Regions from separate parts of the Homo sapiens genome. Here region 2 is linked to region 1. A link means that fine-mapping ties the variant in region 1 to the expression of a gene that starts in the linked region. Tissue or cell type: whole blood. Region 1 holds a variant in brackets; the other region holds the start of a gene. All regions are shown on one strand. Distances are between the middles of the regions.

Region 1 (8,100 bases):
GCCCAGGCTGGAGTGCAGTGGCACGATGTCGGCTCACTGCAACCTCTGCCTCCTGGGTCCAAGTGATTCTCCTGCCTCAGCCTCCTGAGTAGCTGGGATTACAGGCGTGGGGCCAGTACGCCTGGCTAATTTTTGTATTTTTAGTAGAGATGGGGTTTCGCCATGTTGGCCAGGCTGGTCTCGAACTCCTAACCTCAGGTGATCTGCTCGCCTCAGCCTCCCAAAGTGCTGGAATTACAGTCATGAGCCACTGCGCCTGTCATGTTTTCTTCTTTTTCTGCATTGCTATTAAAAATTTTGGCTGGGGCCGGGCGCAGTAGCTCATGCCTGTAATCCCAACTCTTTGGGAGGCCAAGGTGGGTGAATCACCTGAGGTCAGGAGTTAAAGACCAGCCTGGCCAACATGGTGAAACCCCTGTCTCTACTAAAAATACAAAAATTAGCTGGGTGTGGTGGCGGGCGCCTGTTATCTCAGCTACTTGGGTGGCTGAGGCAGGAGAATCACTTGAACCTGGGAGGTGGAGGTTGTAGTGAGCCGAGATCGTGCCACCGCACTCCAGCCTGGGCGACAGAGCAAGACTTAATCTCAAAAAAAAAAAAAGAAAAGAAAAAATTGTTTCCTCATAATCGTAAAGCTGTTATACTCACTGCAGGCACAGCTAGTACATTTTGCTCAACCCCACAGGCTCCGTTCCCTTTACGAGGTATTTATTTATTTATTTATTTTTATTTTTGCGACGGAGTCTCTCTCCTCTGTCATCCTGGCTGGAGTGCAGTGGCATGATCTCGGCTCACTGCAACCTCGGCCTCCAGGGCTCAGTCGGTTCTTGGGCCTCAGTCTTCCAAGTAGCTGTAAGTACAGGCATGCGCCACCACGTCCGGTGAATTTTTTGTATTTTTAGTTGCCATGTTGGCCAGGCTTTTACTAGCTATTTATAATATGCTTGAGTCACTCACAGGAATGAAATACTGTCAGCATCAATAGTTAGCAGCTCTTTCAAAATACATTTTATTGCCTCTATAAGAAACCTTAACTATTCTATTAGTCCAGTAATTCCAAATGGTCTTATTATTTCTTGGGTTTTGTTTGTTTGTTTGTTTGTTTTTGAGACGTTGTTTCTCTCTTGTTGCCCAAGCTGGAGTGCAATGGTGTGACCTCGGCTCACTGCAAACTCCTCCAAGGTTCAAGTGATTCTCCGGCCTCAGCCTCCTGAGTAGCTGGGATTACAGGCACGAGCCACCATGTCTGGCTAATTTTTTGTATTTTTAGTAGAGACTGGGTTTCCTCATGTTAGTCAGGCTGGTCTCGAACTCCTGACCTCAGGTGATCCATCCGCTTCAGCCTCCCAAAGTCCTGGGATTATAGGCATGAGCCACCGCACCTGGCTCGTCTTATTATTTCTATACATAATATATGCTCTTTTGGCTGGGCGTGGTAGCTCAAGCCTGGTGGCAGACGCCTGTAATCCCAGCTACTTGGGAGGCTGAGGCAGGAGAATCGCTTGGACCTGGAAGGCAGAGGTTGCAGTGAGCCAAGACTGAACCACCTCACTCCAGCCTGGGCAACAGAGTGAGAACCCATCTCAAAAAATACTGATAATAATAAGATCATCTTCAGAACTCAGTTCCTGGTGCATGAAGAGATTCAATACAGCCCCCTCACTCTCAGTTCTTAGAAAGAAGAATATGCCAGCCTGACCAACATGGTGAAACCCCCGTCTCTAATAAAAATACAAAAATTAGCTGGGTGTGGTGGCGCACGCCTGTGATCCCAGCTACTCAGGAGGCTGAGGCAGGAGAATCGCTTGAACCTGGGAGGTGGAGATTGCAGTGAGCCCAGCCTGGGAGACAGAGCAAGACTCATTCTCAAAAAAAAAAAAAGAAGAAGAATATGAAAGAGATAGGATCAATAACTACCTTCATTGTTTAATAGCCTAAGAGTGAAAGCCCAGCACAGTGGCTCACCCCTGTAATAATCCCAGCACTTTGGGAGGTTGAGTTGGGAGGATCACTTGAGCCCAGGGGTTCGAGAACAGCCTGGGCAATATGTCAAAAGCTCCTCTGTAGAAAAAATACAAAAATTAGCCGAGTGTAGTGGCACACACCTATAGTCCCAGCTACTAGGGAGGCTGAGGTGGGAGGATCACCTGAGCCTGGGAGGTCAAGGTTGCAGTGAGCCATGATTATGTCACTGCATTCCAGCCTGGGAGACAGAGCCAGACCCTGTCTCAGGAAGAAGAAGAAAAAAAAAAAAGCCAAATCTTTTTATCCCAGGATGTCTGAAAAGGACAGAGTCTATGGAGCATGGATGCAGAAAAGTAGTTATTCCTACCAGAAAAAAAAAAAATGAAATGTGGACACAGCCACTCAAGATCAGAGACTCAACCAGTGAAAGCAATTAGCTTCAATTTCATTGTCACCAGGAGGGCGCACACCAGAGAACCTGGGAGAAAGCCTGGGCTAGAGCCCTTAGCATTCTCAGTGTTACTGGTGCTGTGGTTCAACAACCTTTGTGGGAATGAGGAGAACCAGAGACCATCACCATCACACGTAAAAAGGATCCTATAGCAACAATGTGGCTGTCAAAAATCAGCTGGAGGCCAGGCGCGGTGGCTCACGCCTGTAATCCTAGCACTTTGGGAGGCCGAGGCGGGCGGATCACCTGAGGTCAGGAGTTTGAGACTAGCCTGGTCAACATGGTGAAACCCCGTCTCTACTAAAAATGCAAAAAATTAGCTGGGTGTGGTGGTGCATGCCTGTAATCCCAGCTACTTGGGAAGTTGAGGCGGGAGAATCACTTGAACCTGGGAGGCAGAGGTTGCAGTGAGCCCAGACTATGCCACTGCACTCCAGCCTGGGTGACAGACTGAGACCCTGTCTCAAAAAAAAAAAAAAAATCAGCTGGAGCTTAAATTATACATTGTTTGCAATCCAGACTGTACTTGCTTTCTTGTCAATGGCTTGAGATATGTGCAGAGGCCCCTTAAACATGTGTAGGTGACCTTTCTCTGTCGCCCAGGCTGGAGTGCAGGGGCACAATCTCAGCTAACTGCAACCTCCACTTCCCGGGCTCAAGCAATCCTCCCGCTGCAGCCTCCTGAGTAGCTGGGACTACAGGTGTGTGCCATCAAGCTTGGCTGATTTTTTTGTACTTTTTTTTTTTTTTTCGAGATGGAGTCTCGCTCTGTCGCCCAGGCTGGAGTGCAGTGGCGCAATCTCAGCTCACTGCAAGCTCTGCCTCCCGGGTTCACACTATTCTCCTGCCTCAGCCTCCCAAGTAGCTGGTACTACAGGCGCCCGCCACCATGCCCAGCTAATTTTTGTATTTTTTTTAGTAGAGACGGGGTTTCACCGTGTTAGCCAGGATGGTCTCGATCTCCTGACCT[C/T]GTGATCCGCCCGCCTCGGCCTCCCAAAGTGCTGGGATTACAGGCGTGAGCCACTGCACCTGGCCGATTTTTTGTATTTTTAGTAGAGACAGGGTTTTGGCATGCTGCCCAGGCTGGTCTGGAACTCCCGACCTCAAGGGATCCGCCTGTCTAGGCCTCCCAAAGTGTTAAGATTACAGGTGTGAGCCACCACGCCTGGCCCAGAAATACTCTTTTTTTTTTTTTTTGAGATGGAGTCTCACTCTGTTGCCCAGCCTGGATGGAGTGCAGTGGCGCGATCTCGGCTCACTGCAAGCTCCGCCTTCTGGGTTCACGCCATTCTCCTGCCTCAGCCTCCCGAGTAGCTGGGACTACAGGCACCTGCCACCATTTTTTTTTGTATTTTTAGTAGAGACGGGGCTAATTTTTTTTTGTATTTTTAGTAGAGATGGGGTTTCACCGTGTTAACCAGGATGGTCTCGATCTCCTTACCTCGTGATCTGCCCGCCTCAGCCTCCCAAAGTGCTAGGATTACAGGCGTGAGCTACCACACCTGGCCCAGAAATACTTCTTTATCAGAAATATTACTGGCGGGTGTAGCAGGGCACGCCTATAATCCCAGCACTTTGGGAGGTCGAGGCAGGCAGATCCCTTAAGCTTAGGAGTTCAAGACCAACCTGGGCAATATGGTGAAAGCCGTCTCTACAGAAAATTAGCCAGGCACAGTGGTGTGTACCTGTGGTCTCAGCTCCTAGGGAGGCTGAGGTGGGAGGATCACTTGAACCCAGGAGGCTGAGATTGCAGTTAGCTGAGATTGTGCCCCTGCACTCCAGCCTAGGCGACACGGTGAGACTCTGTTTCAAAAAACAAAAAAGAAATATGACTTATTTACAAATATTTCTTTCTTTTTTATTTTTAGAGACAGGGTCTCACTATTACGTAAGTATTATAAATTATATATATATGTTTGTTTGTTTGTTTGTTTTTCTGAGACAGAGTCTTGCTCTGTCACCCAGGCTGGAGTGCAGCGGCACAATCTCCACTCACTGCAACCTCCGCCTCTTGGGTTCAAGTGATTCTCCTGCCTCAGCCTCCTGAGTAACTGGGACTACAGGTGCCCGCCACAATGCCCAGCTAATTTTTTATATTTTTGGTGGAGATGGGGTTTCACTGTGTTAGCCAGGATGGTCTCGATTTCCTGACCTCGTCATCCACCTACCTCAGCCTCCCAAAGTGCTGCTAGGATTACAGACGTGAGCCAGTAAGTCCGACATCTTTTTTTTTTTTTTTTTTTTTTGTGGAAACAGGGTCTCACTGTGTCTCCCAGGCTGGAGTGCAGGGGCACAATCTCGACTCACTGCAGCTTTGACCTCCCAGGCTCAAGCGATCCTCTCACCTCAGCCTTCCAAGGAGCTGGGACTACAGGCACCAGGCCCATGCTACTGGTCCCTGCTGTTTACAAATACACTAGACTTGGGTTTTAGCTGCTCTCTCAACACCAGGTGGGAAATGGATTGTTCGGAAGGTAGAGGAATAGAGGAGGGACCTGCTTAGGAAGGTGGGGGTGCTCTAGATGAGAGAGGAGGTGCTGTGACCTCAAGGTCTGGGGAAAGTGGGTGAGTGCAGGGCCCCATCAAGGCTCTCAACAAGGCCTCTCTCTCTGGAGCTCAGATGTGAAGCCCAGAAGGCAGGTCAGAGGCCTGAGGTCAGAGGCAGGTCAAAGGTGGGGGTCCCACCTGGTCCCCTTGGCGCCTTCCCTTGGAATGCAGTGACCAGCTGCCTGGAAGGGTGGGCAAGGGGACAACAGGATGGGGTAAAGGCCAGTTACAAGTAGAATCCTGGAAGGCCGGGCGCAGTGGCTCACGCCTGTAATCCCAACACTTTGGGAGGCCAAGGCGGGCAGCTCACTTGAGGTCAGAAGTTTGAGACCAGCTTGGCCAACATGGTGAAACCCCGTCTCTACCAAAAAGTACAAAAATTAGCCGGGCGTGGTGGCACATGCCTGTAATCCCAGCTACTCGGGAGGCTGAGGCAGGAAAATCGTTTGAACCCGGGAGGCAGAGGCTGCAGTGAGCCGAGATCCCGCCACTGCACTCCAACCTGGGTGACAGAGTGAGACTCTGTCTCAAAACAAACAAACAAAAACCAAGTAGAATCCTGGATAGACAGTGGCTCAGGGACTCAGCTGTCCCCAAATCACCTACCTTAGCTCTTTGTGCAGGGGATGGGGGATCCCCAAGATCTTCAAAGATAGGGAGGTATCCTCAAGATCTTCAAAGGTGGCCAGGCGTGGTGGCTCACGCCTGTAATCGCAACACTTTGGGAGGTCAAGATGAGAGGAGGCCATCTTAAGGCCAGGAGTTCAAGACCAGTCGGGGCAACATAGCAAGACTCTGCTTCTGTTTCTGTTTTTGTTTTTGTTTTTTAATGTTTCCTCGAAATCCCACCTTAACATCTACACAATGGTGCCTACAGTTTTCCCCATTAACTTCCTCTCTGGGGACAGAATATTCCCCTACCCACCTAAGTTCAGCCAGAAGGAGATGCCTCATCCCCCCCACCCAGGCTTCCCAGTGCTGAGAACAAAAGAAACCAGTTTAGTTAGCATTTCCTGTGAATTCAAATGGGGGCCAGCAGTGCAACTGGGACCAGCCCATTCCCTGGGGGAGACTCAGCAGTGCTGGCCACTTTGCAGAGCCCCGTCTGGGTCCCCCACCCTGGCCCCCAAGGGCCACAGCATCCCCTTCCACCCACAGGCCTGGGCAAGGTGCAGTCCCCAGACTTCTGCAATCTTAACCGCTGTGCTTCCGTCGCAGTGGGAGGCCCCGCCTTTTCCCCTGCCTGCCCTTCGGGCACCTCAGGAAGGCACCTTCCTCTGTCAGAATGGCCACCATGGTACCATCCGTGTTGTGGCCCAGGGCCTGCTGGACTCTGCTGGTCTGCTGTCTGCTGACCCCAGGTGAGACCAGTCAAGCCGGGGAGGGCTGGAGAGGGCTGCGTTTTGGGGATCAGTAGAGGGTAGAGGAATAGAACGCAACGCTGTTCACATCCTGCCACACTGCGACCTGGCCGCTGACTCTGTATCCTCGGGAGAAAGTTCTGGTTCCTTAGTTCAGCCTTCAGGTGGTCAGGCCCCAGCATAGGCTTGTACGCCATCCCTCTCCCCTAACACACACACACACACCCCTCATGCTTCCTGCTCCATCTGAACTCCTGAAATTTGCCCTTTGCGTATGTGCTTCCCTCTGCCAGGATCACCTGTCCCTTTCACTTGCTAACTCCTACTTAGCCTTCAGTTTCGGGCTGCAATGGTCCCCGCTTCCAGGAAGCCTTCCCTGACTCACCTCCTCCTATGCTGGATCAGAGCCTCTTCTGGCCTCCTTCTGAGTTCTCCCCGGTCTCTGATGGATTCTACCTTTCCCACTGGACCATGAAGGCAGGAACCCTTCTGTCTCGGCACAAGGAGAGAGGTGTTAAATGGTGGGGCCTGTTGATGCGTGGGTTGGGGGACAAGGAAACAAACACCAGGACTTCTTCATGTTCCTGAAGGTGTCCAGGGGCAGGAGTTCCTTTTGCGGGTGGAGCCCCAGAACCCTGTGCTCTCTGCTGGAGGGTCCCTGTTTGTGAACTGCAGTACTGATTGTCCCAGCTCTGAGAAAATCGCCTTGGAGACGTCCCTATCAAAGGAGCTGGTGGCCAGTGGCATGGGCTGGGCAGCCTTCAATCTCAGCAACGTGACTGGCAACAGTCGGATCCTCTGCTCAGTGTACTGCAATGGCTCTCAGATAACAGGCTCCTCTAACATCACCGTGTACAGTGAGTCGACGTGTCCGGAGGTGGGACTGGTCTTGGGTAGTGGTGTGGGCAAGTGGCCAATGGCTCAGGAGAGTGGGGACCCTCAGTTTGCAAAGAATGGACCACAGTTCTGACCCAGAGCTCAGACCTGGACATTTGTGTGTGAGATACAAAGATAGACAGAGACAGAGACACAGAGACAGAGACAGAGATATAGAGACGCATCTCAATCTCATGCCAAGGCAGCAGTTGTGAAATCAATTAACTTGGGCCCCAACAAGCATTTTTTTTTTTTTTTTGAGACAGAGTTTCGCTCTTTTTGCCTAGGCTGGAGTGCAGTGGCACGATGTCGGCTCACTGCAACCTTCGCCTCCTGGGTTCAAGTGATTCTCCTGCCTCAGCCTCCCGAGTGGCTGAGATTACACATGCACGCCACCACACCCAGCAAATTTTGTATTTTTAGTTGAGATGGCATTTCACCATGTTGGCCAGTCTGGTCTTGAACTCCTGACCTCAGGCGATCCGCCCACCTCAGCCTCCCAAAGTGCTGGGATTACAGGCATGGGCCACTGCGCCCGGCCCCAACAAGCTTTTTTTTTTTTTTGAGATGGCGTCTCTTACTCTGTAGCCCAGGCTGGAGTGCAGTGGTGCAATCTCGGCTCACTGCGACCTCTGCCTCCCAGGTCCAGCTAATGCCCAGCTAAGTTTTGTATTTTTAGTAGAGACGGGGTGTTCCGCCCACATCAGCCTCTCAAAGTGCTGGGATTACAAGTGTGAGCCACTGCGCCTGGCCCCAACAATAATCCCAACACTTTGGGAGGCCAAGGCAGGAGGATTGCTTGAGTCCGGAAATTTAAGACCAGGCAGAGCAATATAGGGACACCCCGTCTCTACAAAAATAAATAAAAAATATTAGCTGGGCATGGTGGCACATGCCTGA
Region 2 (8,087 bases), 38 kb before region 1:
ATCTCTACTAAAAAATACAAAAAAATTAGCTGGGTGTGGTGGCACACGCCTGTAATCCCAGCTTCTCTGGAGGCTGAGGCAGAAGAATCGCTAGAACCTGGGAGGCAGGGATTACAGTGAGCCGAGATCGTGCCACTGCACTTCAGCCTAGCAACAGAGCAAGACTCCGCCTCAAAAAAAAAAAAGTTACCCAGGCATCGTGATGCACATCTGTAGTCCCAGCTACTCAGGAGGCTGAGGTGGAAGATTGTGAATGGTGAATCTGGGAAGTTGAGACTGCAGTGAATTGAGATCACAGCACTGCACTCCAGCCTGGGCAACAGAGCGAGATTCTTGTCTCAAAAAAAAAAAAAAAAAAAAAAAAAAGAAAGAAAGAAAGAAGAGAAACCCAGCTGGGCGCGGTGGCTCACATCTGTAATCCCAGCACTTTGGGAGGCCAAGGCGGGTGGATCACCTGAGGTCAGGAGCTCGAGACCAGTATGGCCAACCTGGCCAAACCCTGTCTCTATTAAAAATACAAAAATTAGCCAGGCGTGGTGGTGCACGCCTGTAATCCCAGCTACCGGGGATGCTGACGCAGGAGAATTGCTTGAACCTGAGAGGCAGAGGTTGCAGTGAGCCAAGATTGCGCCACTGCACTCCAGCCTGGGCAACAGAGCAAGACTCTGTCTCTTTAAAAAAAAAAAAAAAGAAAGAAACTTCCCATGAAATGTCAGGTTGCAATAAGGACTCTGAAGAAAATACAGCAGAGCCCAGGAGGTCAAGTTGCCCAGGCTGGAGTGCAGTGGTGTGATCACGGCTCACTGTAGCCTCAACCTCCTGGGCTCAAGCAATCCTCCCACCTCAGCCTTCGGAGTAGCTGGGACTAACTAATTTTTTTTCCCCCCGAGATGGAGTCTCACTCTGTAGCCCAAGCTGGAGTGCAGTGGTGGGATCTCAGCCCACTGCAACCTCCACCTCCTGGGCTCAAGCGATTCTCATACTTCAGCCTTAGACTAATTTTTTTTATTTTGGGTAGAGATGGGGTCTTGCTATATTGCCCAGGTTGGTCTTGAACTGGGCCCAGACAGTACTCCTTCTTTAGCTCCCTGAAGTGCTAGGTTTATAGGGATGAGCCACTGCATCCAGCCAGGACAAGTCTCTATCAGCATTTTATTTTATTTTATTTTATTTTATTTTTGAGACAGAGTCTCACTCTGGCGCCCAGGCTGGAGTGCAGTGGCGCAATCTCGGCTCACTGCAAGCTCCGCCTCCCCGGTTCACGCCATTCTCCTGCCTCAGGCTGCCACTACGCCCAGCTAATTGTTTGTATTTTTAGTAGAGACGGGGTTTCACCGCCTTAGCCAGGATGGTCTCGATTTCCTGACCTCATGATCCGCCCACCTCGGCCTCCCAAAGTGCTGGGATTACAGGCGTGAGCCACTGTGCCCGGCCTCTATCAGCATTTTCTTTCTTTTTCTTTTTCTTTTTTTTTTTTTGAGACAGAGTTTAGCTCTTGTTGCCCAGGCTGAAGGGCAATGGTGTGATCTCGGCTCACTGCAACTTCTGCCTCCCAAGTTCAAGCGATTCTCCTGCCTCAGCCTCCTGAATAGCTGGGATTACAGGTGCCCACCACCATGCCCAGCTAATTTTTGCATTTTTAGTAGAGACAGGGTTTCACCATGTTGGCCAGTCTGGTCTTGAACTCCTGACCTCAGGTGATCCGCCCGCCTCCACCTCCCAAAGTGCTGGGATTACAGGTGTGAAAGAGACCATTCCCGATCTCTTTCAGCATTTTCATACTGAATGTCCACAGCTGCCCTGTGAGGAGGCTTTTTACCCATATTTTCTGACTCAGAGAGAAGCAGCCACATGTCCCTTGGCCATGGCAGTTAAGACCAACTCCATGGAGCTGGGTGTCTTAGCTCACATCTGTAATCCCAGCACTTTGGAAAGCCAAGGCAGGATGATTGCTTGAGGCCAGAAGTTCAAGACCAGCCTGGGCAACATAGCCAGACCCCATCTCTACAAAAATTTAAAAATTAGCCACAAAATTTAAAAATTAACAACAAAAGGGCCGGGTGCGGTGGCTCACGCCTGTAATCCCAGCGCTTTGGGAGGGTGGATCACGAGGTCAGGAGTTCGAGACCAGCCTGGCCAAGATGGTGAAATCCCATCTCTACTAAAAATACAAAAATTAGCCGGGCGTGGTGGCGGGCGCCTGTTGTCCCAGCTACCCAGGAGGCTGAGGCAGGAGAATCGCTTGAATCCGGGAGTCTGAGGTTGCAGTGAGCCGAGATCGCAGCATTGCACTCCAGCCTGGGCGACAAGAGCGAAACTCCATCTTAAAAAAAAAAAAAAAAAAAAGTGGAAGATGAGGAAGTTGATCAGACATCAAGGATGAGCGGATGACTTAATAGGCTTCTTTGCTAAGACTTGGCTGGGCAGGTGAAAGACAAAGTCGAGGAGTGGTTATGGTGTGGCACAGAAGAAGGGTCAGAGGACGGTCTTTGTTACCTCTTCATGCCTGAGTTTCTTCCTCTGTGAAATGGGGATAATAAGAGCCGCCATACAGGGAATTGCTGCTAGGATCAAATGAGATAATGTATGTGAAACGCTCTGGCTGTAGGCTTCTCAGCAAATGGGCACGACTTGCGGAGTGGGGATTTGAATTCACGTCTGGCGGGATGTCCAAGCTGCTACCCTGACCGCTAGGGAGCTTCAGAGGACAGGGCTGCAGGTGATCAGGAAGAGGACTGGGGCAGGTGGGCGAGGAATGCCTCCCAGGAGTGAAGGAGGGGGAATTCTAGTCAGCAGGATGGAGTCGGCCAGGTAGAAACGAGGGAAAGGAGACAGGACCGGATGGAACGGGGAAGCCAAAGGGCAGGGCGTCGGAGGGTTGAATGGTGGCCGGTGCAGCTTTGAACACCGAGGTGAGGACATGCAGCTGTGTCCTAGGGTCAGGACCGTACACGCCTGACCCAATTCCACAGCACGGAGGGGAACTCCAGGATCCGGCCGCGTTGCCCACACACTTCGCTCTCCCTCCCGCCTCTCGCAAGCCCCTCCCCCGTCTCCGTCCACCGAGTGCCAGCCAATAGCAGAAGCGACAGCGCATCTGGGTGCCGACTCAGCCAATCGCGGCTGAGTGACGAATGAGCCCCAGGACCAATGAGAGTGCCGCCACCATGGCAAAAAAAAAAAAATCCAATGGTGACGAGCAGGGAGAACAGAGCAGCTGCCAATGGGCGTGTGCGTTTCAGGCGGCCAATGGGAGGAGGCGTCTCGGCGGGGGACAAGCAGTAGCTACCCGCGGGAGCGGGGAGGGGTCCGGGTTCGAGCTTGTGTTCCCCCGGAAGGGTGAGTCTGGACGCGGGCGCGGAAGGAGCGCGGCCGGAGGTCCTCAGGAAGAAGCCGCGGGGACTGGCTGCGCTTGACAGGCTGCACTTGGATGGGAGCACCTGGTGCCTCGGGACTGCTCCGATGCCCGGTGGGTGCACATCCCAGTTCCCGCCGTTGCCGGCCGGGTTTAGAGGTTTTGGGGGGAGGACATGGGGGCGTGCAGCCTTCCCAGTTGCAAACTTCACTCCGACCCTGTCTTCAAAGCTGGGTCTGGGTCCAGTGGGGACGAGAAAGGAGGAAGGAGGAAGTAGGCTCCGCGAAAGCCCCATCCCCGGGATCTCATCTATAACATGAATAGGTATTAATGGCAAAGGCTAATTAAGCGCTTACTGTATACCAGGCACTTTCTCTGCCTCCTCGCGTTAAATCCTCCCAGCAGCCTTTTGAGGTAGACACTGTTACATGCCCATTTTCCAGATGAGGAAACCAGCAACATGGGTGGAAGTGACAGCCCCTCCACTTCCATACTGGCGCCCTCAGGAGGCTCAGGCCCTGGATTGGGGGGATGGAGCTGGACATAAACTCTCCTAGGCTTTGGGGAGTCAACAGGGACTGAGGTCACTCATGGGGGTAAATGTGGGAGAGGAGAATTGTGGCCTGAAAGAGGCCATCACCACGATGAAACTAATAACAATTATGTTATTCTTGTTTTGGTCATATTTGTTCTTTTTGTGTGTGCCTGAATCAGGGTCTGTGCTGAATGTGTAATATGCGGAACTATATTGAAACATTACAACCATCTTTTGATGGCAACACCCTGAGGACCTCCCTTTTCCAGATGGGGAAACTGAGGCCCAGAATTGCTAAGTGGCTTGCTTGAGTTGACACAGGGAGCTCCAGGACTCACCCTCAGGTATGTTTGACCACATCTGCCTGTCTGGTTATTTTGGGGAGGTGTGTTAAGAGCAGATTTTTATTTTACTTTTTATTTATTTATTTATTTATTTATTTATTTATTTATTGTATTTTAGTAGAGATGGGGTTTCACCATGTTGGTCAAGATGGTCTCAATCTCCAGACCTCGTGATCTGTCCGCCTTGGCCTCCCAAAGTGCTGGGATTACAGTCATGAGCCACCGCGCCTGGCCCTTTTTATATATTTTTATTACTTATTTATTTATTTATTTATTTATATTTTTAGAGTCAGGGTCTCACTCTGTCACCCAGGCTGGAATGCAGTGGTGCGATCACTGCTCACTGCAGCCTCCAACTCCTGGGCTCAGGAGATCCTCCCACTTCAGCCTCCCGAGTAGCTTGGAGTACAGATGTGCACCCCCACGCCTGGCTAAATTTTAAAAATTTCTTGTAGAGGCCGGGCACAGTGGCTCACGCCTGTAATCCCAGCACTTTGGGAGGCCGAGGCGGGTGGATCACCTGAGGTCAGAGGTTCAAGACCAGCCTGGCCAACATGGCAAAACCCTGTCTCTACTAAAAATACAAAAATTAGCCCGGTGTGGTGGCAGGCGCCAGCTACTCAGGAGGCTGAGGCAGGAGAATCACTTAAACCCAGGAGGCAGAGGTTGTGGTGAGCAAGATTGTACCATTGCACTCCAGCCTGGGCAACAAGAGTGAAACTCTGTCTCAAAAATAAGATAAGATAAGATAAGATAAGATAAGATAAGATAAGATAAGATATAAAATAAAACGTCTTGTAGAAACAGGGTCTTGCTATATGGCCTAGGCTGGTCTCGAGCTCCTGGGCTCAAGCAATCCTCTTGCCTCAACATCCCAAAGTCCTGGGATTAGAGGCGTGAGCCACTGTACCTGGCCAGAGCAGATTTTTATATCTGTGTCAATTTGTGGAAAGAGAGGAGGGTTCAGTGTTATTGTTGATGAGAGATCTAGGTGGGGATGCATACCCCAACCCTGTCCAATAAATGTGGAAAACGAGACTCAGAGAGGGAATCGGGTCTCTAATGTCATGCCAAGATGGGAGCCCAGAATCTTCCCCTCAGGCCTTAGCTGGGGTGGGTGGAAGGTTGAAGAGCTAACAGGGGTCTCTGGGCTGAGACTTGGGAGCTGACAGATTGTCCCCTTTCCAGCTGAGCCACCTGCCGGGAGCATGCCTCTGCGCCACTGGGGGATGGCCAGGGGCAGTAAGCCCGTTGGGGATGGAGCCCAGCCCATGGCTGCCATGGGAGGCCTGAAGGTGCTTCTGCACTGGGCTGGTCCAGGCGGCGGGGAGCCCTGGGTCACTTTCAGTGAGTCATCGCTGACAGCTGAGGAAGTCTGCATCCACATTGCACATAAAGTTGGTGAGTCTGGGGCGTTGGCACCATGGGGACTGGGGTGGGTGTGCAAGCAGCAGCTGGGCCCCATCCATCCGTCTATCCACCCACCCACCCATCCACCCACCCATCCACCCACTCATCCATCCATCCATCCATCCACCCATCCACCCACCCATCCACCCTCCCAACCACCCATCCATCCACCCACCCACCCATCCATCCACCCATGCATCCATCCATCCTCCCATCCACCCATCCACCCACCCATTCACCCACCCATTCACCCATCCACCCACCCTTTCACCCATCCACCCATCCACCCATTCATCCACCCACCCACCCACCCATCCATCCACCCACGCATCCATCCACCCACCCACCCACCCATCCATCCACCCACGCATCCATCCATACATCCACCCACCCACTCATCCATCCACCCACCTATCCACCTATCCATCCACCTACTCACCCACCCATCCACCCACCTATCCACCCACCCACCCATCCACCCATCCATCCACCCACCCATTCATCCATCTATCCATCCATCCACCCATCGATCCATCCATACCCACCCATTCATCCATCCACCCATCCATCCACCCACCCATCCACCCATCCATCCACCCATCCATCCATTCATCCATCCATCCATCCACCCACCCACCCATCCATCCACCCACCCACCCATCCATCCATCCATCCATCCACCCACCCACTCACCCACTCACCCACCTATCCATGCATCCATCCATCCACCCACCCATCCATCCTCCCACCCATTCATCCATCTATCCATCCATCCATCCATCCATCCATCCATCCATCCATCCACCCACCCACCCACCTATTCATCCATCTATCCATCCATCCATCCATCCATCCATCCATCCATCCATCCATCCATCCACCCGTTCATTCGGTGAACATTTTGTAAGCATCTACTGTGTGGCAGCTGCAAATCACTGCCTTTGTAGAGCTGAAATTTTAGTAGGGAGGACAGCAAGAAATATAATAAATCAGAAAACTTGGCCAGGTGCAGTAGCTGACACTTGTAATCCCAGTACTTGAGGAGGCCCAGGCAGGAGGATTGCTTGAGGCCAGTAGTTGGAGACCAGCCTGGGCAACATAGGGAGACCTTGTCTCAACAAAATAATTTTTAGAAATTAGCCAGGCATGGTGGTACATGCCTGTAGTCCCAGCAACTTGAGAGCCTGAGGCAAGAGGATCGCTTGAGCCCAGGAGTTCAAGCCTGCAATGAGGTATGGTTTCGTCACTGCACTCCAGCCTGGGTGACAGAGTGAGACCCAGTGTCATTAAAAAAAGAAAGTCAGGCCGGGCGCGGTGGCTCATGCCTGTAATCCCAGCACTTTGGGAGGCTGAGGCTGGTGGATCACTTGAGGTCAGAAGTTTGAGAGCAGCCTGGCCAACATGGCAAAACTCCAGCTCTACTAAAAATACAAAAACTAGCCGGGCGTGGGGTGCGCACCTGTAATTCCAGCTACTCAGGAGGCTGAGGCAGGAGAATAGCTTGAACCTGGGACATGGAGGTTGCAGTGAGCCGAGATCACAGCACTGCACTCCAGGCTGGGTGACAGAGCTAGACTCCGTTTCAAAAATAAAAAAAGGCCAGGTGCGGTGGCTCATGCCTGTAATCCCAACACTTTCAGAGGCTGAGGCGGGCAGATCACCTGAGATCAGGAGTTCAAGACCAGCCTGGCCAATGTAGTGAAACCGCATCTCTACTAAAAATACAAAATGTAGCCAGGCATGGTGGCAGGTGCCTGCAATCCCAGCTACTCAGAAGGCTGAGGCAGGAGAATAGCTTGAACCTGGGACATGGAGGTTGCAGTGAGCCGAGATCACAGCACTGCACTCCAGGCTGGGTGACAGAGCTAGACTCCGTTTCAAAAATAAAAAAAGGCCAGGTGCGGTGGCTCATGCCTGTAATCCCAACACTTTCAGAGGCTGAGGCGGGCAGATCACCTGAGATCAGGAGTTCAAGACCAGCCTGGCCAATGTAGTGAAACCGCATCTCTACTAAAAATACAAAATGTAGCCAGGCATGGTGGCAGGTGCCTGCAATCCTAGCTACTCAGGAGGCTGAGGCAGGAGAATTGCTTGAACTTGGGAGGTGGAGGCTGCAGTGAGCTGAGATCGTGCCATTGTACTCCAGCCTGGGCAACAAGAGCGAAACTCCATCTCAAAGAAAAAAAAAAAAAAAAAAGAAAGAAAGGCTTTCCCTCCTCCTGCACAGGAAATTGCACTTCCAAATATATCTACTACAGTCTTTCTTTTTTTCTTTTTTTTGAGATGGAGTCTCGCTCTGTCCCAGGCTGAAGTGCAATGGCGCAATCTCAGCTAACTGCAACCTCCGCCTCCCGGGTTCAAGCGATTCTCCGGCCTCAGCCTCCCGAGTAGCTGGGACTACAGGTGTGTGCCACCATGCCCGGCTAGATTTTTTTTTTTTTTT

What was found. PIP is the estimated chance that this variant, and not a neighbour inherited with it, causes the effect.
Region 2: it holds the start of TYK2, and the variant in region 1 is fine-mapped to the expression of TYK2 in whole blood (INTERVAL, PIP 0.99).

Annotation. Positions count from the first base shown.
Region 1 is chr19:10,337,763-10,345,862 of GRCh38, reverse strand. It overlaps ICAM3 (intercellular adhesion molecule 3), which reads left to right and starts at 6,239. Exons shown (of 7, transcript NM_002162.5): 1 at 6,239-6,324; 2 at 6,915-7,181. The coding sequence starts at 6,249. RefSeq lists enhancers at 4,641-5,388, 5,389-6,136, 6,230-6,279, 6,500-6,599, 6,885-7,633. The variant C/T (reference allele first, on the strand shown) is at 3,387.
Region 2 is chr19:10,375,762-10,383,848 of GRCh38, reverse strand. TYK2 (tyrosine kinase 2) reads left to right here and starts at 3,277. Exons shown (of 25, transcript NM_003331.5): 1 at 3,277-3,469; 2 at 4,070-4,234; 3 at 5,423-5,635. The coding sequence starts at 5,443. RefSeq lists enhancers at 2,648-3,311, 3,220-3,379.